Regions from separate parts of the Homo sapiens genome. Here region 1 is linked to region 2. The links come from fine-mapping of genetic effects on gene expression. Tissue or cell type: testis. Region 2 holds a variant in brackets; the other region holds the start of a gene. All regions are shown on one strand. Distances are from middle to middle.

Region 1 (11,545 bases), 33 kb before region 2:
CACTAAAATCTTGCAGGTCACACAAGTGACTGTGCAAAGCATCAGAGCTGGGAAAACCAAGAACTGTCCCTACTGCACCCTTCTGAGCTGTCAAGGCCTGGCCCTGCCCTGTCTCTCCTCCCAAGAGTTGCTTGATGGATCCTCCCGAGAGTATGAACACATTTGGAATCAACAAATTTAAAGCTAAACTTTTTATTCTTTAAAAATGTTCGCATATTCCCACGCTTATCTCAACTAACTGTAAACCTTTTTATTTTCTCCCAGATAGGAACCTTGAAATGATCCCTGTTCCCCTGCACACTCCCAGCCACACCCCCTTTACACCGCAGGGGCCCCTAGCCCCTCTCTCCCTCGCTCTCCGTCTTCCTCTTATCCATCATCACTTCCTCAATAAATACATTTTGGGTACTTCCTGCATATAAGACATCCTGCCAGCTCTGGGCATTCTGCGGTAAACAAGGGTCATGTCCTATGCAGCTTCATTAGCTGATTGACCACTGACCACTCCTGGGAGGCGCCTGCAGGGTGCTCAGAAAGTGCCTGGTGAAGCTGTGCTCGTGTGTTCCAGAAGCAAGGCTGTCCGGCCTGAGAGGGGCGGGAGGGCACATGAGATGAGGTGGGTGGGGCAGGGGTGCAGCTGGACTGAGGGTTTCATTTCATCCTGAAAGGTGGGGAGGAAGGACTGAGGAGACAGGTGGGACAGAGGGGCAGACGTGGTCATGTTGAGTGGAGGACATCCCGAGATGACCCATTTAGACAGAGTTCAACAGGTTAAAAATCTAGGTTGGGAACCAAACTTTCTCCGTTTTATGAACTTTTTCTGAAAGGATGTCTGCAGTTCCCTTGACACATTATCACACAGCCTGTGCTCAGTATTGTGCTAATAAGGAATATTTCCATCATTGTCCCTTAAGGGCCAGGTGCAGCCCATGCCCAGGGCTCTGCTAATTTTCCGCCAGTCTGCGCCCTGCGGGTCATATGAAAATGAAACTTTAGACCCTCCAGGCAGAGGCAGCAAAGTCCCCTTGAGCCCCATCTGTGTTGATGTGAATTCCGCTCCCCTCCCTGCTGCCTCCGACTGTGCCTTGGACCCGTGGGTGGCAGATAAGGGCTCCCCGGAACCAGAACTGAGCTCCTCAACCACAGAACCCCAGAGCCTCCTCCAGTAATGCTTCTCCTGCGTTAACGACAAGGACTGAGATGGTTAATTTTGTTTTTGGCAACCCCAGAGAAGTAAAACCCACAATGCAGAAGAAGGAAAACCAAATGCCACTAATTGTGATACAACCACCCCGTTGCCCGCTTCCGGAGACAAGGTTCTGGACGCGGTCCTGGCGCGGGAACCTGAGCTGGAGCCGGCGACCCCCGCCCGCCACCAGCCCGCGCCCCGCAGAGCGCACGCTCAAGAGCGCGAACACCCAGCGTCTGCTCTGTGCTGACGGCGTTCTTTATCAGCTCATTTAATTTTTAGATTTGTTGGCCCATTCGACGTTCACAATGTTCAGAAATGTACGCTGGACAAATAAATAGGGCAAGAGCACGAGCTCACCGATTTAAAAATTCCACACAGCATTGCAAAGGTTTTCTGGAGCCTCGTCATCAAAGTTGACCCAGGAAGAAGTAGAGGCTTCCATGTGGGACACTGTTATTTCTAATCTACTTTGAAACCGCAGGGCAGGCAGGGAGGGAGGAAGGAGAAAGAAGCAGCAGGCCAGGTCTGCAGGCAGGAAGAGGAGAGCCGGCCGGCAGCCGCCGCCTCGCTGAGGTCTGAAGCCAGGAGGCTGGGAGAATGCGCAGATAAAGACGAGCCAGACCTCCAGACCGCAACCCTCCTCTCCCTAGAGAGGGAACAGGCCGCTTTCTGCTTATGCTGAACTCGGGGCTCTGGAGACAGGAAGCGTGGAGGAGACAGCAGAGGTGAGGCTGGGAGATAGGATTTCAGTGGGTCTCTTCCCCCTTCCCGGTCTCAGGACATCCACCCCAGCGGGACATCAGAGACTCCCTCTCTGGAGGTCACCAGCTGCAGCTGAGCAAAGCCCTGAAGCGAGCAGTGTCCGCAGCTTCCGACGCCTCAGCGTGGGTGAGGGGACCTCGGTGGACGAAGCCACCTGTACCCCGGCGGTTGAACAGGAGGGGAAAGCGCTCCCGGGAGGAGCCTGCGGGCCCAGAGGCGGAACGGTGGGGGTGGGGGCGGCGACTCCTGCTCAGAAGCAGCCCCGCCCATCCCCATAAACTCTCCCGCACAGTCGCCGAGAGGCCGGATTCCTGGGCGACTCAGTGCGCCTCGCTCCGCAGGCAACGCGCGGGGGCCATCGCCCTAATCCTGATCTCATCCTTCGGATGCTGTTACTATAATATTACTGTTAGTTTATTATTTGGCCATCGCCGACGTGGCTAGCGCCCGTAACTGTCCCGGGGCGTGTTATGCACCCCCCGCTCCGTGCCAGGGACGCGGACTCACCCCTGTCCCTGTGCGCATGGAACGCGGGGAGGTCGCCTCTGCCCGAGAACTCGTCCTTGTAGTCCAGCAGCGCTTCCTTCACCGCCTTGTAGCCGTGCATCACCACCATGCGCTGCGAGCCCACGTACAGCGTGAACACCGGCCCGAAGCGCTGGGCCAACTGCGGAGACCCGTGGCTAGAAGTCAGGCCCGCCGCGCGGCGAGGAGGTGCGGGGCTCTAAGCCACACCCCTGCCGGGCGGGTATTGCTGTTGCTCTAGAGAACCCAGAGGGACGTGGGGAAAAGCTGTCTTTGTCCAGCCCGAGGTGGGGGAGACCCTCCCCTCAAGAGGCTGCTGCGTCTGCAGGGCGCTCGGGGGGTTCCAGCTGCTCTGCTCCCCACCCGCCTGGACTCCGCGGACAACTCCGCGGCAACTCCGCGGACTCCGGCTCCTCACGTCCCTTCCCTCAGGCGCGCCCACCAACCACCCCGTTGCCCGCTTCCGGAATCAAGGTTCTGGACCCGGTTCTGGCGCGGGAGCCCGAGCTGGAGCAGGCGACCCCCGCCCGCCGTCAGCCTGCGCCCCACAGAGCGCACGCGCAAGAGCGCAAACACCCAGCGCCTGCTCCGTGCTGACGGCGTTATCAGTTCATTTAACGTTTAGGTTTGTTGGCCCATTCAGTGTTCACAACAGTCGTAGGCGGCAGGTATTGGTGCCACACGGGCTGGCCCAACACTTCACGTTTCAACTCGTGCTTTGGCAAACACAGGCGGACGCCCAGCGAGTGCGCATCTGGCCGCCAGCCCGGTTATCCTGGCGTCGCAGCAGCCCGGCCTCGCCGGCCTCCCCATCATCAGCCCCAGGACAAGGCACCGGCGGGGGCCTCCGGGGCCTGGCACGCAGGCTCCGGGCTCCAGCTGCACCACAGGCGACACATTTTGAGTGTCGCTCCAGGATGCTATCAATTCAGGTAATTCACAACAGGCTGGTATTGAACAACCACAATTTGTCTGCAAATGAGTTGAATACACACATACCAGATCCAATTGCTGAGTTATTCTCCCTAAAATCAACACTATTTCTCTTACCCGGGTGAAGGACTTGGGAATATTCTTCAATTCCAACTGGAAGAGGTTCCCGATGATGGGAAGCGGGAAAGGGCCTGGGGGCAGATTCCAGCTGCTGTGCACCTGCCTCCACATGGACACCAGCAGGAGGAAGGCCGCCCACACCAGCAGGGCCACGGTGACTCCGAGGGCAGACATGGTGCCGCTGGGGCCCTGCTGCCAGCCCGGGAGACAATCCTGTGGAAACGGAAGGTTTTTATAATGTGTTCTGAGAAGGAGGGTGACCCACCAACCAATGCCCTCTTGCTACTCGTCTATCCCAAATTACTGGTTTATTATTAGCTGCTGTTGGCCATCGTTTCAAAGGCTGATTCCCGCAATGGTGGCCCCCAGGGGTTCCAGCCAGTGACCTGGTGAGGATGGAGTTGGACTGTGTCAACACCCTGGTTGCTAGCACCTGTCACTGTGCCAGCAAACACATCCAGGAACATGTTGCCAACCCATAGTTAAGAACGTGGGGTGAGGTACCGTCCTGCCCTTTGGCACTGGTTAGACAACGGGGAACTCCAGCCACATCCCCATGCATTTGTTTGGAGTAGGGTTTATGTAATACAACTCCAACCCCATGCCGACCACCTCTAGACACGGTACCGGCCCTCCTGGTGCAACAGCCTCTTGATGTCTGATGAGGAGGTTTGTCTGAGCAGCCCCCAGTAGTACCTGAATCACCACCTGCCACATGAATGGGGCCAGAAGGAAAATTCAACATCGGAATTCGATTCCACTTTCTCAAGTTAACTGGAAAATTCCATGGAAGAAAAATAAAAGGAAAGAGTGAGTCAACCAATTCTGAGAAAGTTAATCTCTGTTTTCATTTTTTTTAAAGGTATATATTCTGGCTGTAGAAAATTAAGAAAAATTGTTCTTTGGAATTATTCCAAATTTAAATTCTTAAAAAATTACATTAGAGTTTTATTGGATTTGTTTTACATTAGGGTAAATTTAGAAGACGATTTTAAAGATATCTTGTCTTTGTTGATCCCGGGACACAATAGAGCTCCACATTGACTAGCTTCTTCTTTCATGTATTAATTATTTTCTTCATACAGACCCTCTTCCACCTTCTATGAAGGTAGTCCATAGGTATTTTGTGGAGCTTTTTTGTGTGTGTGGTTAGAATGAAGAGAATGTTTTTCATTCTGTCTTCTAACTGGCAATATATAGAAGTTCTTAATTCATAGGTTGCAATTTTGTACTTTTATATTAACAATGAATCTTTATGTATAATAGAAAATATGATGAGAAATGAAGAAAATAAAAGTCATTTACAATCCAGCCAAATCACTTGTGGATTTTGAGTTATGCCATTCTATACTTGTATTTATACAAAAATGAGACTACATACTATATATTGCATTCTAACCCAGTTTTTCTCTTGACAATTTATTAGCCACATAAGCAAGTCATTGGTTGTGCTGCACCTAACACTGCACCTCTCCTGAACCAAGAAGGGGCGTTGGCCTCTGGCAGAGGCTTCAGGGGCCTTTGCTTCCCTCTGGTTTTTGGCACCCCTCGAGGTGAGAACTGACAATGTAGACTCGACTGGCTCACGGGTGGGTTAGCCTGCCGCCTCCTCCTCTCTTTCCTTTCCAGTGGCCAGTGTGAGGTGGCAGGGACAATTCCCTGGGCAGAAACAGCTGTCCAGACCCCTGAACCCTGTTGTCCTGTGTGGGCCCAGCCAGGCCTGGCCGGGACAGACACCCATTGGGGTCCACAAGTTTCCTCGATTACTGGTTCCTTCTTCTAGTGCTTGAGAGCAGCAGAGTCAGCTCCCCACAGACTGAAATTGAAGCCTTGGCTTTGGTGGGGTGAGAACAGGAAGCATCAGGGTGGAGAGGCAGAGCAGGCCTCTGGCTCCCCTGGGCTGAGGACACCTTGTCTGTGCAGCTCACCTGAGTGTGCACATCCCAGGCGGGACCCGCGTGCCCTGGAGAGTCTGTGCCTCACAGGGATGCAGCTGTGGTCTGAGTCCTCTGGCCATAATACTGTTAGATGCCCAACCAACATCAAATTTTATATACGGGAACACCTCGTTTGAAAATAATGACATTTCTGTGTGCTTCTTTTCAGAAGCCGGGGCTTTTATTTGTTTTGCATCTGTCCCATTGGCAGGACACTCTAGGACAAGGTGAAATAATCAGGATGACAGAGTGCCTGTGCCTCTGCCCGTGACAAGGTGAAATAATCAGGACGACAGAGTGCCTGTGCCTGTGACAAGGTGAAATAATCAGGACGACAGGGTGCCTGTGCCTGTGACAAGGTGAAATAATCAGGACGACAGGGTGCCTGTGCCTCTGTCCGTGACAAGGTGAAATAATCAGGACGACAGGGTGCCTGTGCCTCTGCCCGTGACAAGGTGAAATAATCAGGACGACAGGGTGCCTGTGCCTCTGCCTGTGCCCGTGGCAGGGTGTTCTTCAGGCTTCCATCACGTCTGCTGTTGGCTGGGTGTGGCAAAGAGGTGACTGTATTGGGACAATTTTCTTCTTTCTCTAGATAACTAACAGTGTTTATCAGGGATGAGAGTTGGGTTAATGAAATCTTTTTTTGATTGAGACAATCCTGTGATTTTTCTCCATAGACCTGCTAGTATGATGCTAGAAGAAAACACTGTCTCACAATGTACCATAAAATTACCATAAATTTTTATATTGTATCATAAAAGTACCTCATAGTTCCACATCACAACCAACTCGTTCATGGAGTGATACTCTTTTAACACCCTAAGGATTCAACTTGTTAATAGTATTTTTAGTAATTTTGCATCTATACCCACAAATAAAATCGGGCTATAATTTTTGTGTTATATTAGGTTCTTGCATAAAAATTGCACTATTCTAGAAATCATTGCAAAACCCCTGTCTTCTCTGTGACTGGGGATACTTTATACTGTAGGGGAATTTTCTGTGCTTCAAAATTTTAATAGAACTCACTAGTAAAGCAATATAGAGAAGATTTACTGGAATTAAATAATTGTTTATAAAGATTAGAAAGATAATTTTAATTGGGGAAGTAAAATATCTCCTTTTAACGAATGCAAACAACACAAAAGTGGGTGAAGTGGAAACTGCGAGTCCCAAATTCACCCTACAAAGGCAGCTTCCATATTTTAAACCCCATTGAGAAGGAAAGATTCTGCTAATTCTCTTTTTATTATTTGCAGTTTTAATTTTGTACCTACTAAAATACTTTTTGGCACTTACTTTAATTCTGTGTATAATGTGCATTTGAGTTACTAGTGTTCTTTGACTTTGACCCAAGAGACTTCCTTTAGTATTTCTTATGACAGGCTTGTGAATTCTCTCGGTGTTGTTTATCCAAGAATGTCTTAATTTCTCTTTCTTTTTGACATTTGATCTTAGCCAAAAGGCTGACATATTTTAAATTTTAATTAATAAATTAATGGGGGAGGGTACCAGAAAACCTGCTAGACAAATTCTAAAGAGCTGTAATACTTCTCTCTTTTTGGAAGAATGTTTTCTGGATATAGAATTCTTGGTTAGCAGTGTTTTTCTTCAGTGCCCTGACTGTGTCATCTCACTGCCTGCTGGTCCCATGGCTTCTGGTCAACAAGTGCTGTTATTTTATCAAGGGCTGATTTACCTGACGACTCATTTGGTTTCGGCGGAACAGGTTCCTGCTATTTTATCCAGGGCTGATTTACCTGATGACTCATTTCGGTTTCGGGTGAACAGGCGCTGCTATTTTATCAAGGTCTGATTTACCTGACAACTCATTTTGGTTTTGGGTGAACAGGTTCCTGCTGTTTTATCAAGGGCTGATTTACCTGACGACTCATTTCAGTTTTGGGTGAACAGGTTCCTGCTATTTTATCGAGGGCTGATTTACCTGACGACTCATCTCACTCTTGCTGCTTCCAGGACTCCCAGTTTCCCTTTGATTGTTTGACTACAGTGTGTGCAGGTATGGCTCTCCTTTCATTTATTCTATTTTGAGAATAAATGAATAAATGACAATAAATGAATATTCATTTATTAAGCTTTTGGATATGTAGATGGATCTTTTTCATCAAATTTGGGGAATTTACACCCATTATTTCTTCAAATAGTATTTTTGTCCCCTTATTTTCTCTCTTTCTGTGATTCCCATTGTACCTGTTAGATACCCTTGATGATGTCCCAAAGGTCTCTGAGGCTCCATTCATTTTTCAACACTTTAGCTGGTGTTCACATTGCAGTTCTGGAGGAACAGATTTTCAGAGCTTCTTATCCTGCCATTCTAGAAGTGCTTCTCTTGTCTATCCTATTTATCAGGAAAATGAGAGCTTTCCAAGAAACTTCCAGAAAATCTGAGATTTTTTAAATTCTTGGTTAGAATGTCACCACTCCTCTGTGCAAGAGGGGCTGGAAAGTGGAAAGACCTTTTAAGTGAATGTGTCAAAATATTAAGGGAATTAGGAATGGGATTGATTACTAATCAATAGTGTGTACCATACTATGGTTGTAAGTATTCTGTGTATTCTTCCAAACTTCAAAAACAATTTATATAAACATACACACACATACTACATTTTGTATTTCACAATTTGTCTATTTTGAGTTGATGAACAATTCAAATGGTTTCCCCAACTATTTATGTTACAAAAGGTGCCACAATGGTGCCCTGTAGATGTATCTTTGTTCAGACATGCACCTATCTCTGTAAGTCAGTTTTGTGGGAGTGGGACGGTTAGGTCACTGGATATGTGGATTTACAATGTTAATAGGTATATAAAACTGCTTCCTCAAAAGGTTGAAACACTTAAAACCCCCCACAGTAGGATGGGAGAGCCAATTTCTACACATCTGCTCCAACACTAGATACTGCCAGTCACCGATAACTGAAAATTCATATGTCATTACTTTAATTTGCATTTCTCTGGTCAATAAAGAAGTAGAGCATCTTTTCATCTACTGATTATTTATTTGAATTTCTTTTTTAATGAAACAATTCCTTCCCTTTTCATATTGGGATTTTACATATTTCCTCTCAGATTTTAAGGACTCTTTGTCTATCAAATAAATAGTAGTTGTTTTCATGTTTGATGGTTTGGAAGTTCCTCCCAGTCTCTTGTTTGATTTCCCATGTAGAAAATTAGATTTTTATACAGTTAAACTTTTCAGACTTTTCCTTTATGGCCTTTGGAATTTAGACAATGTTTTCTAAAAGACCTTCCCCATCAATTATTTTTAATTTAAAAGTCACCATTATGGCCGAGCACGGTGGCTCACGCCTGTAATCCCAGCACTTTGGGATGCCAAGGCGGGCGGATCATGAGGTCAGGAGATCGAGACTATCCTGGCTAACACGGTGAAACCCCCTCTCTACTAAAAGTACAAAAAAGTGGCGGGCGCCTGTAGTCCCAGCTACTCGGGAGGCTGAGGCAGGAGAATGGCGTGAACCCGGGAGGCAGAGCTTGCAGTGAGCCAAGATCTCACCACTGCAGTACAGCCTGGGTGACAGAGCGAGACTCCCGTCTCAAAAAAAAAAAAAAGTCGCCTTTAGAAAAGATCTATGTGGTCTTGTCATTTCTAGGTAAGGTGCCTTGATTTCTCTGACTAGAATCGTGTTTTATTACATTATCTTTTATTTTAAAAATCTACTCAGATATGTTAATATGTATTAAAATTGGCAATTAATCTTCTAATTGTATCTTTTACTGTTATATAAACATCTTTTTGACTCCCCTGATAACTGTTGCTACATGTGTTTGCTTTTCGTAGTATTTCCCTGGTCTATCTCTGCTCATCATAATATTTAAAGTATCTTTATGTTATTTTTGTTCTTGATAGGTGTCCTGTAAACATTCTATAGCTTTGACATAAACGGAAAGTTTTTCCTTTTTATAGAATTAAACGGTCATATTTATCACGATTACTAAATTTGGCTGTTACGATGTGAATGTATGTGTGTGTGTATGCGTGTGTATGTGTGTGCATGTGTGTGTGTGCATGTGTGTATGTATGTATATGTATGTGTGTATGTGTGTTTCCTTTCCCTATGTTCGGATTGATCATTTTTTGTTTGTTCTTTTTGCTTGATGATTTGGACTCCTGTTGTTATTCTACCGGTGGTTACCCTTGAATCTGAAAACACATATAGACCTATAGTTTTTTTATTCACTTGAATAATTTGTCAATATCTTCTGATCTAAACAAGAAGGGACCTTAGCATACTGTTCTTCTCTACTTCTCTTGCAATATACACTCTACCCCAAATCTCAGGAATTTTAGTTTTAGAATATTAGTTTTAAATTTGTTCAAATATACTTCTGTTTTATAAATTAATTTTTATCTAAGGCATTCACATTTTCAGCCACCTATCGAGTGATTATTTGCCCTCAAATATATGCTGTACCAGTCCCTTCGCCTGTTTCTTCTATATCATATCTTGTCTTCCATGGATTCCTGCTCCTAGACACACAACATCTTCCACATAAAATCAGGACCCAATTTTATGTGGAGAGGGTGGGCTGCACGAGGAGGTACACTTGGAATGCCCACCTCCCTGGGCTACTTGACCTCCCTCCATAGCCAACTTCTCTTCAGTGGCAGATCACGTGGCAAAAACATGTTGTCAGACTGACAGCAAACTTGCCTCTCCTCCCTTCACACTCACAAGTAGAAAGCATAAAACATCTCAGAAGTGCTCTAGGAGGATAATCAGTAGCCATAAACCCTTGGACCACAGAGCTACGAGGCAGAAGAATATTACTCTTCTGGGCACCCAAAAGGCTCTGGATAAGAAGGGAGGAGAGTACGGATGGGGCTGAAAACATGCTCAGAATGGCTGATTTGAGGGCTTTCCCCTGGAAACTTCCTCTTGTTTTGTATTGTCAAAAGGTTGAGAACCTTAAAACAGACATTTGTGTGGGCAACTATCTGATGTTCGATGCCATACTTCACTGGAAATAACGACCTTGACAAAAGCCAAACATCTGTTCCAAGTAAAACAAAAGCAGAGAACACACAACCTCGCCGCGTCCAAAGGGCAAGCCACGCTGGTGCAGGAACGAAGCCTCCCGCCTCAGAGGGCGCGGGGCTCTGTGCTGTGTCCTGTCTCCTGTCAGCCGGCTCTGCCCGCACGCTGAGCTGCGGTTATGGCTCCGGGAGCAAACAACCCGGAAGTGGCAGCGCGGCTGGGCGGAGGGCGCCCTCCTGGTTCCGCTGGGGCTGCGGCTCCCTGAGGCCCCGAGGGGACCCCGCTCACCCGGGCCCCGCCCACCAGAGGGCGCCAGAGAGAAGCCACCGGGGAGGCGCCTGCGCTGTTTCCCTGAGCCTCCTGGTACCCCGTTTGAGACACAGGAAAAAACGCGTGAAAGGCTTCTGTAAATTATCAAGTGTGGTGACGTATGAACCCCAGGCAGCCCACTCCCAACCCCAAACAACATCTCATTCAAGCTGCGTCTACCAGAAGCTCGCACATCCAACTGCCTCCCTCCAGAGGTAGCCGCTGTCCCGAATTTTGCTTTGAATGTTCCCTGTGATTTTCTTTTTTATACTGTGTAATTGGATTTTTAAAGGGATTTCATAACATTTATATTCCCGGAGGCTTGAATTTTTTTGCTCATCGTTTTTCGTTACCACGTAGTGAGGTGTTGCTGCAGTTCCTCGACTTTGTGACTCCACAGATACGAATATGTGGCACTTTGTTTAACCACTGTCCTGTCCGATTATTCCCAAGGTTTTGCTACTGCAGACTAGGAACATTTTTGAACATGATTCCTGGAGCACTGTGTAAGAATATCTCTAGGCCAAGTGTATACCTGGGCAACCTAATATACATGGAACCAGATTGTTTTCCAAGTATTTGAACCATTTACCTGCGTCCAGTGGTGTCTAAGTGTTCCTGTTATTCCCAACAGTATGTACTAATAAATTTCTTAATATTTTCCGATTTAGTCAATATAAAATGATATTTAACTGTGGTCCCATTTTGCATTTCCCTGATTATAAAGTAGAGAAACTTTCTCTCCCT
Region 2 (11,703 bases):
GGATAGGATGACCACTTCTGTGGACACCATTCAGCCTCTTTCCCAAGCACCTCTGTCATTGCCCAATGGACCCGTGAACAAAGTGGCCATGGTGGCAGGGATGGAGGTTATGAATGGGCTCAGCAATATGAGCTTCCACTCACCAAGGCTGATCTGGCTATGGCCACTGCTGAGTGCCCAATTTGCCAGCAGCAGAGACCAACACTGATTCCTCGATATGGCACCATTTCTCAGGGTGGTCAGCCAGCTACCTGGTGGCAGGTTGATTATATTGAACCTCTTCCATCATGGAAAGGGCAGAGATTTGTCCTCACTGGAATAGATACTTATTCTGGATATCGGTTTGCCTATCCTGCACACGATACTTCTACCAAGACTACCATCTGTGGACTCATGGAATGCCTTATCCACCATCATGGTGTTCCACACAGTATTGCCTCTGACCAAGGTACTCACTTTACGGCCATAGAAGTGCAGCAGTGGGCTCATGTTCGTGGAATTCACTGGTCTTACCACGTTGCCCATCATCCTGAAGCAGCTGGATTGATAGAACGGTGGAATGGCCTTTCAAAGTCACAATTGCTGTGGGTGGCAAGCCACCCAGGTGCCAAGGCAAGAGACCGAGGACACGAGCTGTTCCAGTATAATAAAATATAAAATAAGAATAGTTATACCAGAGATAGATCTTAGATATGATTATATATGAATATCATTAATCATTAGTAGCAATTACTCTTTATTCCAATATTATAATAATCCTCACTCTATAATCATAAACTAGGAAAAACCAGGCCATACAGAGATAGGAGCTGAAGGGACATAGTGAGAAGTGACCAGAAGACAAGAGTGTGAGCCTTCTGTTATGCCCAGACAGGGCCACCAGAGGGCTCCTTGGTCTAGCGGTAACGCCAGCATCTGGGAAGATGCCCATTGCCAAGCAGACCGTGGTCTAGCAGTAGCGTTAGTGTCAAGGAAAAACACCCGCTACTTAGCAGACCGGGAAAGAGAGTCTCCCTTTCCCCAGGGGAGTTTAGAGAAGACTCTACTCCTCCACCTCTTGTGGAAGGCCTGACATTAGTCAGGCCCACCCACAGTTATTCGGAGGCCTAACCGTCTCCCTGTGATGCTGTGCTTCAGTGGTCACACTCCTAGTCTGCCTTCATGTTCCATCTTGTACACCTGGTTCTGCCGTTTAGTTAGCAGTAGCAAATTAGTGAAAGTACTAAAAGTCTCTGATAAGCAGAAATAATGGTGTAAGCTGTTTCTCTTTCTCCTCTCTCTCTCTGCCTCGGCTGCCAGGCAGGAAAGGGCCCCCTGTCCAGGGGACATGTGATCCATGTGGCCTTCCCTATCATTGGAGATGGCCCACACTCCTTATCCTGCCCCTTTGTCTTGTATCCAATAAATATCAGTGCAGCCTGGCATTCGGGGCCACTACCAGTCTCCGCATCTTGGTGGTAGTGGTCCCCCGGGCCCAGCTGTCTTTTCTTTTATCTCTTTGTCTTGTGTTTTTATTTCTACGCTCTCTCGTCTCCACACAGAAGGAGAAAATGCACCAACCCTGTGGGGCTGGACCCTACAATTACCATGTCAATTAGATGACAATACTTTGCAGGGCTGGGGCAAAGTACTCTAGAAGGCTGTGTATGCACTGGATCAGCATCTGATATATGGTACTGTTTCTCCCATAGCCAGGATTCACGGGTCCAGGAATCAAGGGGTGGAAGTGGAAGTGGCACCACTCACCATCACCCCTAATGATCCAGTAGCAAAATTTTTGCTTCCTGTTCCTGCAACATTACGTTCTGCTAGCCTAGAGATCTTAGTTCCAGAGGGAGTAACACTGCCACCAGGAGACACAACAACAATTCCATTAAACTGAAAGTTAAGATTGTCACCTGGACACTTCGGGCTCCTCCTACCTTTAAGTAAACAGGCTAAGAAGGGAGTTACAGTGTTGGCTAGGTTGATTGACCCAGACTATCAAGATGAAATCAGTCTACTACTCCATAACAGAGGTAAGGAGGAGCATGCATGGAATACAGGAGATCCATTAGGATGTCACTTAGTATTACCATGCCCTGTGATTAAGGTCAATGAGAAACTACAACAGCCCAATCCAGGGAGGACTACAAATGGTCCAGACCCTTCAGGAATGAAGGTTTAAGTCACTCCACCAGGAAAAAAACCTTGATCTGATGAGGTGCTTGCAGAAGGCAAAGGGAATACACAGTGGGTGATAGAAGAAGGTAGTCATCAATACCAGCTACGACCACATGACCAGCTGCAGAAATAAGGACTGTAAAAAGTATTAACCCTAGGTGAGTCTGTGTGGGTGTTGCCAAAGGAGATTTGAGTCAGTGGGCTGGGGAAGGCAGACCCACCCTTAATCAGGTGGACACCATCTAATGAGCTTCCAGCAAATATAAAGCAGGCAGAAAAACATGAAAAGGCAAGACTGGCTTAGCCTTCCAGCCTACATTTTTCTCCCATGCTGGATGCTTCCTGCCCTCAAACATCAGACTCCAAGTTCTTCAGTTTTGGGACTTGGACTGGCTCTCCTTGGTCCTCAGCTTGCAGACAGCCTATTGTGGGGACCTCGTGATCATGTTAGTTAATATTTAATAAACTCCCATTTACATATATACATATATATATACATATATAATATTTATCCTATTAGTTCTGTCCCTCTAGAGAACCCTGACTAATACAGATTTTGGTACCAGGAGTGGGCTGTTGTGTTGCTGAAAAGATACCCAAAAATGTGGAATTGACTTTGGAATTGGGTAACAGGCAGAGGTTGGAACAATTTGGAGGGCTCAGAAGAAGATAAGAAAATGTGGGAAAGTTTGGAACTTCCTAGAGACTTTGCCCAAAATGCTGATAGCAATATGGACAATAAAGTCCAGGCTGAGGTGATCTCAAATGGAAATTAGGAACTTGTTGGGAAGTGGAGCAAAGGTGACTCTTGTTATGTTTAACAAAGGGACTGGCAGCATTTTTCCCCTGCCCTACAGACCTGTGGAACTTTGAACCAGAGAGAGATGATTTAGGGTATCAGGTGGAAGAAATTTCTAAGCAGCAAACATTCAAGAGGTGATTCAGGTGCTGTTAAAGGCATCCCATTTTATAAGGAAAGCACAGCATAGAAGTTTGGAAAATTTGCAGCCTGACAATGCAATAGAAAAAGAAAATCCCATTTTCTGGGGAGAAATTTAAGCCAGCTGCAGAAATTTGCATAAGTAACGAGGAGCAGAATGTTAACTCACAAGACAATGGGGAAAAGACATGCCTCTCCAGGGCATGTCAGAGGTCTTCACAGCAGCCCTTCTCATCACAGGCCTGGAGGTGTACAAGATAAAAATGGCTTCCTGGGCTAGGCCCAGGGTCCCCATGCTGTGTACAGCCAAGGGACTTGGTGTCCTGTGTCCCAGCTGCCCCTAGCCATGACTAAAAGGGACCAAGGTAAAGCTCCAGCCATGGCTTCAGAGGGTGCAAGCCCTAAGCCTTAGCACCTTCCACATGGTGTTGAGCCTGTGGGTACACAGAAGTCAAGAATTGAGGTTTGGGCACCTCCGCCTAGATTTCAGAAGATGTATGGAAATGCCTGGATGCCCAGGCAAAAGTTTGTTGCAAGCGCAAGGCCTTCATAGAGAACCTCTGCCACAGCAGTGCAGAAGGGAAATGTGGGGTCAGAGCCCCCAAACAGAATCCCTAATGGGGTAACCACCTATTGGAGCTGTGAGAAGAGGGCCACCATCCTCCAGACCCCAGGATGATAGATCCACTGATAGCTTGCACTGTGTGCCTGGAAAAGCCACAGACACTCAACACCAGCCCATAAAAACAGCCGGGAGGGAGGCTGTATCCTGCAAAGCCAAGGGGCGGAGCTGCCCAAGACCATGGGAACCCACTTCTTGCATCAGTGTGACCTGGATGCGAGATGTGGAGTCAAAGGAAATAATTTTGGAACTTTAAGATTTAACTGCCCTGATGGATTTTGGACTTGCATGGGGCCTGTAGCCCCTTTGTTTTGGCCAATTCCTCCCATTTGGAATGGCTGTTTTTGCCCAATGCCTGTACCCACATTGTATCTAGGAAGTAACTAACTTGCTTTTGATTTTACAGGGTTGTAAGCAGAAGGGAGTTTTCTTGTCTCAGATGAGACATTGGACTGTGGACTTTTGAGTTAATGCTGAAATGAGTTAAGGCTTTGGGGGACTGTTGGGAAGGCATGATTGATTATGAAATGTGAGAACATGAGATTTGGGAGGGGCCAGGAGTGGAATGATATGGTTTGCCTGTGCCCCCACCCAAATCTCAACTTGAATTATATCTCCCAGAATTCCCATGTTTTGTGGGAGGGACCCAGTGGGAGGTAATTGAATCATAGGGGCTGGTCTTTCCTGTGCTATTCTCATGGTAGTGAAAAAGTCTCACAAGATCTGATGGGTTTATCACGGGTTTCTGCTTTTGCTCCCTCCTCATTCTCTCTTGCCACTGCCATGTAAGAAGTGCCTTTCGCCCTCCACCATGATTCTGAGACCTTCCCCAGCCACGTGGAACTGTAAGTCCAGTTAAACCTCTTTCTTTTGTAAATTGCCTAGTCTCAGGTATGTCTTTATCAGCAGCATGAAAATGGACTAATACACTTCCCCTCTTTGTCTTGCTCACTCACTCACTCACTTCCCCTCTTGCCTTGCCATGTGATCCCTGCACGCCAGCTCCACTTCACCCTCCACCATGCATGAAAACAGCCTGTGCCATCATCGGATGCAAATGCTGGCACCATGATTCCTGTACAGCCTGCAGAACCATGAGCCAAATAAACCTCTTTTCTTTACAAATTACCCAGCCCCAGCTATTCCTTTATAGCAACACTAAATGGACTAAGACAATTGAGATAGAAACTTTAAGCACCAGCCAGCAGATAGGGGTTTTAAGAGTTTTGTTTCCCATTGAACCTACCAAATGCCCTGAAAACAATGTCAAGTATTGCCTCATTACATCTGCCTCTGCTGCAAGTTGTGATGTCATAATAGAATCATCCAGAAATCCTTTCATTGTTTTTCTTATGGAAGACTTGTGGACCCAAGGTGGCATTTAATCATAACTCTCTTGTCTAACTTGGAAACAAGAATTTACTCTCCTTCTCTTTTTTGTTCTTTCTTTCTAAAAAAAAAAAAAAGTGGGGGGCAGTAAGCATGATGTCTGAAGAAATAAATACGCCCTGGAGATTTGGAGGTATTATGTATTACCTCCCACATTCTAGATGCCCACTCTTTCCCTGGGAAGAAACACAGAGACCCTGATAAGCCCCTGATTTAAGAATAACAGACTAATCTCCAAGAAGGAAAAACTGAAATGAGGTTTGTCAGGGCGTTTTGTGCCCTCACAGGGTGAGGATATGTAGTAATGTAGTTTCTTGGAAACTAATCTTTATGAGAAATATTTTCCTGAACTTCTTTAGCTTCATCAGTTTCCTTTCTTTTTATTAGTAAATATAGCTAAAACTTGCTTTTAAAACATATATGATATTCTCATAAAATTTTATCTTTCAACCTAATCTAAGCAGTTCTCTAGCTATACAAATTTAACTTTCTTTCTGTATATGCAGAGAGACATGGAATCATGATTGGAGCGATGTCCACCAGATGTCAAAATAGAGTTCTGGATTCTTGTTTTGTATCAACTTTAATGAGATATAATTTCCATATAATAAAATGTACATATTTGTGTATAATTTGATAAGTTCTCAAAAGCTTATACACCCATGTAAACACCTCCACATCATGATACAGAACGTTTCAATTACCCTAACAAGCTCTTCTCTGCCCTTTTGATACAAATCCTTCATCTCAGCCCCAAGCAATCACTATTCTCTCACTTTACATTAGTTCTCTTATTGTGCAGTTTTATATAAATGGAATTATACAATATGAACTTATTTTGTATCTATCTTCTTTTGCTAATCTAAACACTTTTCAGATTCATCCATGTTGGTGCATGGATGAATGCATGCTAAGTCCTATTCCATTATATAGATGTATCACATTCATATAATTATACTCCATTATATAGATTGCTAAATCCTATTCCATTATATAGATATATCACAATTGTTTTGTCCATCATCTATTGATGGATATTTGTCTTAATTTTAGCTTTAGATTAATTTGGATAAAGTTGGGGTAAGCATAAATACATAGGCCTTTGTGTTGATATATGTTTTTCAAGCTCTTATATAAATCCCTAGGAGTATACGTTCAACTTTCTAAAAAAAGCCATTTTTTCCCCAAAGTAGTTTTGCCATTTTACATTTCCACCAGAAATTTACGGTTGTTGCAGTTGTTCTACATTGTTTCCAACACTTGAAATTGTCAGTTTCTTTAATGTTAGTGGGTCTCTAATGGTATCCCATTTTGCTTATAATTTCTAGTTCCTTGATGACTAATGACGTTGAACATCTTTTCACATGCTGATTGGCTATGCATATAAGTTCTTTTATGTAGGGTCTGTTTGTATCAGTTAACCATTTTAAAAAACAATTAGGTTGATTGTCTCCCTATTATTGAATTTTTAGAATTATTTATATAATATGGAAATACAACTTTTGTCTAATATATATGTTATGAATATTTTCTCCAGGTTTGTGGTTTGCCTTTTCATTTTCTTATCTATGTCTTTCAAAAAGCAGAGGTTTCTAATTTTTATAAAGCCTACTTTGTAAATTATTTTCTTTGGTGGTTTGTGCTTTTTGTGTGTGTACTACCTACAAAATTTTTGTATACCCAAAAGTTGCATATTTTTTCTAGTAGCTTTTAGTTTAGCTTTACTGTTTTGGTATATGATCTGTTTAATGTTCATATATGGTTTGAGGGAGGGATTATGGTTCATTCTTTTCTATATACATAACCAGTTATTTCTTTTCTATATATAAGTAACCAGTTGTTTCAACACCATTTTTGAAAAGATTATCTTTTGGCTGGGCATGGAGGCTCATGCCTGTAAACCCAGCACTTTGGGA[G/C]GCCGAGGTGGGCAGATCACGTGAGGTCAGGAGTTCAAGACCAGCATGGCCAACATGTGAAACCCTGTCTCTACTAAAAATACAAAAATTAGCTGGGCATGGTGATACATACCTGTAATCCTAGCTACTCTGGAGGCTGAGGCATAAGAATTGCTTGAACCTGGGAGACAGAGGTTGCCGTGAGCCGAGATCACACCACTGTACTTCAGCCTAGGTGACAGAGCAAGACTCCATTAAAAAAAAAAAAAAAGACTATCTTTTCCCTGATTAGATTAAACTGTATTGATCCTTCGTTAAAGATCAATTGACCATTTAGGTATAGGTTTATTCATTTCTGAATATTTATCCTTACATATTTATCCTTATATCAATAGCAGACTGTCTTTAAATAATAGCTTTAAAGTAAATGTTCAAATCAAGTCATTTTATTTCCCTAATTATGTTCTTTCTTGTTCTTCAAAATTGTGTAAAATACTATATGACATTTGAATAACCATATAAAATTTAAAATCAAATGTCAATTTCTAGGTACTAGTTCAATTTTGGAAGAACTGAAATATTATCAATATTGACTCTGCAATCATAGCGTGTATCTCCACTTATTTTTATCTCCCTTGAGTTTTAGCAACAATGCTGTGATCATAGTACTTAAGTCTTAAACACATTTTGCTAAATTTATCCTTATTTCATGCCTTTGATGCAATTGCAAATGGTGTTTATTTGATTGCAATTTCCAATCCTTGTTATTAGTACATAAAACACTATTTATTTTTGTATGTTTTACTTTATATGACCTTGATAAACTCACTTATTAATTCAAGTAGCACTTTTAACATACATGTGATTATGTTACATTACATGGCATAGTTAACCTTAAGACAGTGAGATTTTCCTGGTAAGCCTGACCTAAGCACACAAGCTCTTCAAAAAAGAGAGGTTTTTTTTCTAGTTTCAAAAGGCAATGTAGAATAGAAGCAAACTGGTTTCACTCTCTCCCACAGAAAACCAAAAACAAAGATTATCACCAGAAATATCCCAGAACTCAAATAAAAAGATGAGACCACTTCCAGGCCCACAGAGAAGTGAAAACACTCTGAGTAGTTGGTAAGAGAACTAGACACCCACATTTGCAATGCCCCCTCCCCCATTCTGCCTGGCACCACATGTGTTGAAAAATTTCCCCAACTCATTGTTTCTACACTGAGAAAAGCAAAATGGAGGAGACAAACAGCTTCCCCACCATTTTGGGTTCCCTGGCAGGAGAACCGTCCCTACCTTAGCCCATGGGAAGCATCAAGAAGTATCCCTGAAGACAGGCAGAGACAAAGTGGGGAGGTGGGACTACCACCTCCAGCCCTGGAAACTCTGCTCTGAAACTCAGCCACAGAAGATGCAAATTACAGTGGATGTTCAGCAGCACCATGCTGTAGGAGTTTCATCCCACAGGTCCCCTGGGTACAAACCCCTAGCCAGCCTTCCCACACTACTGGGATATCCCTTTGGGACTTCCCCACCTCTAACTCGAGAAGAGCAGTGCTCTAACCATTTACTAGAGCCAAGGGGAGCTTGTTTTTAAGGTACCACCTAGAGCCATAAAGGAGGCCTGCCTATGTGACCTAGCATTAGAGAGCCTCTAAGCTTGGGAATAAGATAGCTGACTAGAGATGCCTGGTATTCATCTCCTCCCCACCCGCCACCCCAGACAAGAAGGAACCAAAGCAAAAAATAAACAGCTCAGTGTTGACTGGAGTGTTGAAGGAAGAGTGCTGGTATGCAAAAGAGGAGTGGAAATGCACCTGTGGTGATTAGAAGTCCAGGAGGGCAGTGTGGAAGCACTTGGCCTCTGAAACCCCTTGTCCCTCATCAAGATCAGAACTGCCTAATGTCAGGAGTCACTTATTGCAGATAAACAAAAGATCCCCACCATCCCTGATTGCCACTGCAAACACCTAAAGTCCTTACAACAGGAGAATCCCACCGTCACCCAGTTTGGAGAGCTGCAGGGCATTCACACAGCTTCATTGCCCTAGATTAGGAGCACAATATGTGCACTCCCCATCCCCCAACTATCCCCTGTAAGCCAGTCTGCTGCAGCAGGGCACCATCTTGAGACCAGAGTCATGTCTGGAGTGCACCCTATTCTGGAGGCCAGTATCCACTGCACCTTTCCAGCACTGGAGCTCTGTCTTTGTTCCACCAAGCCCACACTGGTGGCCGAGCACCACAATGCTGGCAGCATGAAGCCTGGGCCCAGGATTGGCTGTGACCCTGGAGAGCAGAAAAACCAACTCCTACCACCCTCACTTCCAGACAGAGGAAAAGTCTGGCAGTCCCACCCAGGGCAAAACTGCCCTTGAGCCAGCCACACTGCTGCATGCCCTCCTCCAAGTCGGAGAGGCCCTCAAGCCTCTGAGTAGCTGACACACTTCCAGGCCAGTGGAGTGGCTATGTGCCTATATTCAGGGTCTGAGTAACAGTTTTGAGGTGCCCTATTCCCTGCAGACAAGGCCCTGACTTGTCCAATGGCCCTGTGTCCACAATCAGTGGCTGAGAAACTGCTCTAGGGGCTGCCATTTGCAAAACACCCCCAGAATAACCAAGCAGTTGTGTGCCCTGGGACTGAAAAGCAGCTCAGCTGGCCAACCCTGGTGGGCAAATCCCCAGTCCAGCTGAGCAGATGTACACCCACATCCCAGGTCCAAGAAACAGCCTGGTGGCCCACCCCCAGCAGACACACACTCAGGCCAGCTGAGCAGTCATGCAGCTGTGTCCTGGGTCTGAGAAATAGTCCCATGGGCTGCCTGCAGCAGACACACCCCCAGGCCAGTCAAGCAGCCCTGTGCCTGCATACCAGGCCTGAGAAACAGCCCTGTCAGCCACCCATGGTGAGCATGCCCATAAGCTGGCCAAATATCTATGCTCATGCTCCTGGCCAGAGTAACAGCCCAGTGGCCCCAACCCCAGGGAGCCAGACCTCAAGTTGACCAGCCCATTGTGCATATGCACACACATCCCAACCTGAGAAACAGCCTGGTAAGCCTGACCTAAGTACACAAGCTCTTTAAAAAGGAGAGGGAAAGCTGCACCGCCAGTGCCACAGACTCTCTCAGACTAGGCCACTGAGAAACTTGAAACACCACTAATGTAGATTACAGCTGAAAAGACTACACAGAGACTACATTACTGCATCCATCTAGAGCCCAGGGCAATGCACCCCACTGAACTGATGCCCTGAGGCCCATTCACATGAATGAGTCTTTTGCTTCAAAACTTACTCCATACAAGCAAAAGAGGTGATTTTTTTTCCCACCAGATGTATAGAAATCAACATAGAGACACCTCAACACATTAACCTTGAAAACGCAAAGAAACATGTCACCTCCAAAGAAAAATAATAATTCTCCTATGACAGATCTCAATCATAAGGAAATATATAAAATGCCAGAAAAAGAATTCAAAATAATAATCTTAAGGAAACTCAGTGAGTTACAAGAGAATACAGATACAACATTCAATGAAATTAGAAAATAATTTATGATTTGAATAAGAAATTTAACTAAATGGTAGATATCATTAAAAAGAGCCAAATGGAAATCCTCAGCTGATGAATTCAATGAATGAAATTAAAATATACAATCAAGCACTTCAACAACAGATTAAACAAAGGAGAAGAAAGAACTTCTGTACTTGAAGATAGGTCTTTTGAAATAATACAGGCAGACAAAAAATAATTTAAAGGAATAAAGAAAGCCTGCAGGATTTATGGGACACCATTAAGCAAACAAATATTCTGGGCATTCCAGGAGGAGAAAAGAAGGGAAATGGAAAACACATTTAATGAAATAACAGCAGAAAAATCCCAAATCTTGGGAGAGGGATGAATGTCCAAGCCCAGGAAGCTCCAAGAACCCCAAATAGATTCAACCCAAACAGGTCCTCTCCAAGGCACATTATAGTCAAACTGTCAAAAGTCAAACATAAAGAATTTTTAAAGTAGCAGGAGAAAAGCATCAATTCAGATATAAGGGAATCCCAGTTTGATTAACAGCAGATTTCTCAGCAGAAACCTTACAGGTCAGAAGAGAATGAGATGATATATTCAAAGTACTGAAATAAATTTTTAAAAACCTGTCAACCAAGAATATTATATCCAGCAAATCTATCCTTCAAGAATGGAGGAGAAACAATTTTTCTTGAGAAGGAAAAATTGAGGGAATTCATCACCACTAAAGCAGTCTTACAGGAAATGCTCAAGGGAGCCTTACATTTGGAAGTGAAAAGACAATAACCCATCATGAAAACATGCAAAACTATAAAACTAACTGATATAACAAAGGGGAAAGATAAAGGAATCAAGCCTTATCACTACAGAAAACCACCCAACTGCAAAAATAAATAATAACAGATGAAGCAAGGACCAAAGAATATACAAAGCAACCAGAAAGCAATCAATAAAATAACAGGAGTAAGTTGCCACCTATCAGTAATAACTTTGAATGTAAATAGATTAAATTGCCCATTTAAAAGCTAGAGACTGGCTGAAGGACAAAAAAAAAAAAAGGCCCAACTATATGCGCTGCCTTACCTATAAAGACACACAAAGACTGAAAGTGAAGAAAGGAATGGAAAAAGATATTTCATGCAAATGAAAACCAAAAGTGCCAGAGACGGTG

Which allele goes with the higher level. Positions count from the first base shown, and alleles are read on the strand shown. Sizes are in standard deviations (SD) of each study's normalised expression.
As copies of C replace G in region 2, the expression in testis of the gene that starts at base 3,739 in region 1 goes up (large effect, 1.3 SD a copy in GTEx).

The links. PIP is the estimated chance that this variant, and not a neighbour inherited with it, causes the effect.
Region 1: it holds the start of CYP2E1, and the variant in region 2 is fine-mapped to the expression of CYP2E1 in testis (GTEx, PIP 0.92).

Annotation. Positions count from the first base shown.
Region 1 is chr10:133,519,557-133,531,101 of GRCh38, reverse strand. It overlaps CYP2E1 (cytochrome P450 family 2 subfamily E member 1), which reads right to left and starts at 3,739. Exons shown (of 9, transcript NM_000773.4): 1 at 3,530-3,739; 2 at 2,462-2,621. The coding sequence starts at 3,706. LOC105378575 (a long non-coding RNA gene) reads left to right here and starts at 4,143. Exons shown (of 5, transcript XR_946512.3): 1 at 4,143-4,342; 2 at 4,959-11,431. It also overlaps the pseudogene LOC124902569. RefSeq lists cis regulatory regions at 4,036-4,060, 5,286-5,292, promoters at 3,732-4,285, 3,644-5,101, 3,732-7,451, enhancers at 4,286-4,413, 4,702-5,114, 7,122-7,442 and a silencer at 10,700-10,899.
Region 2 is chr10:133,486,759-133,498,461 of GRCh38, reverse strand. It overlaps LOC105378575 (a long non-coding RNA gene), which reads left to right. Exons shown (of 5, transcript XR_946512.3): 5 at 5,621-7,038. Among named protein-coding and RNA genes, the nearest start is that of CYP2E1, 35 kb to the left of the region's middle. RefSeq lists a silencer at 860-939 and an enhancer at 7,965-8,014. The variant G/C (reference allele first, on the strand shown) is at 7,031.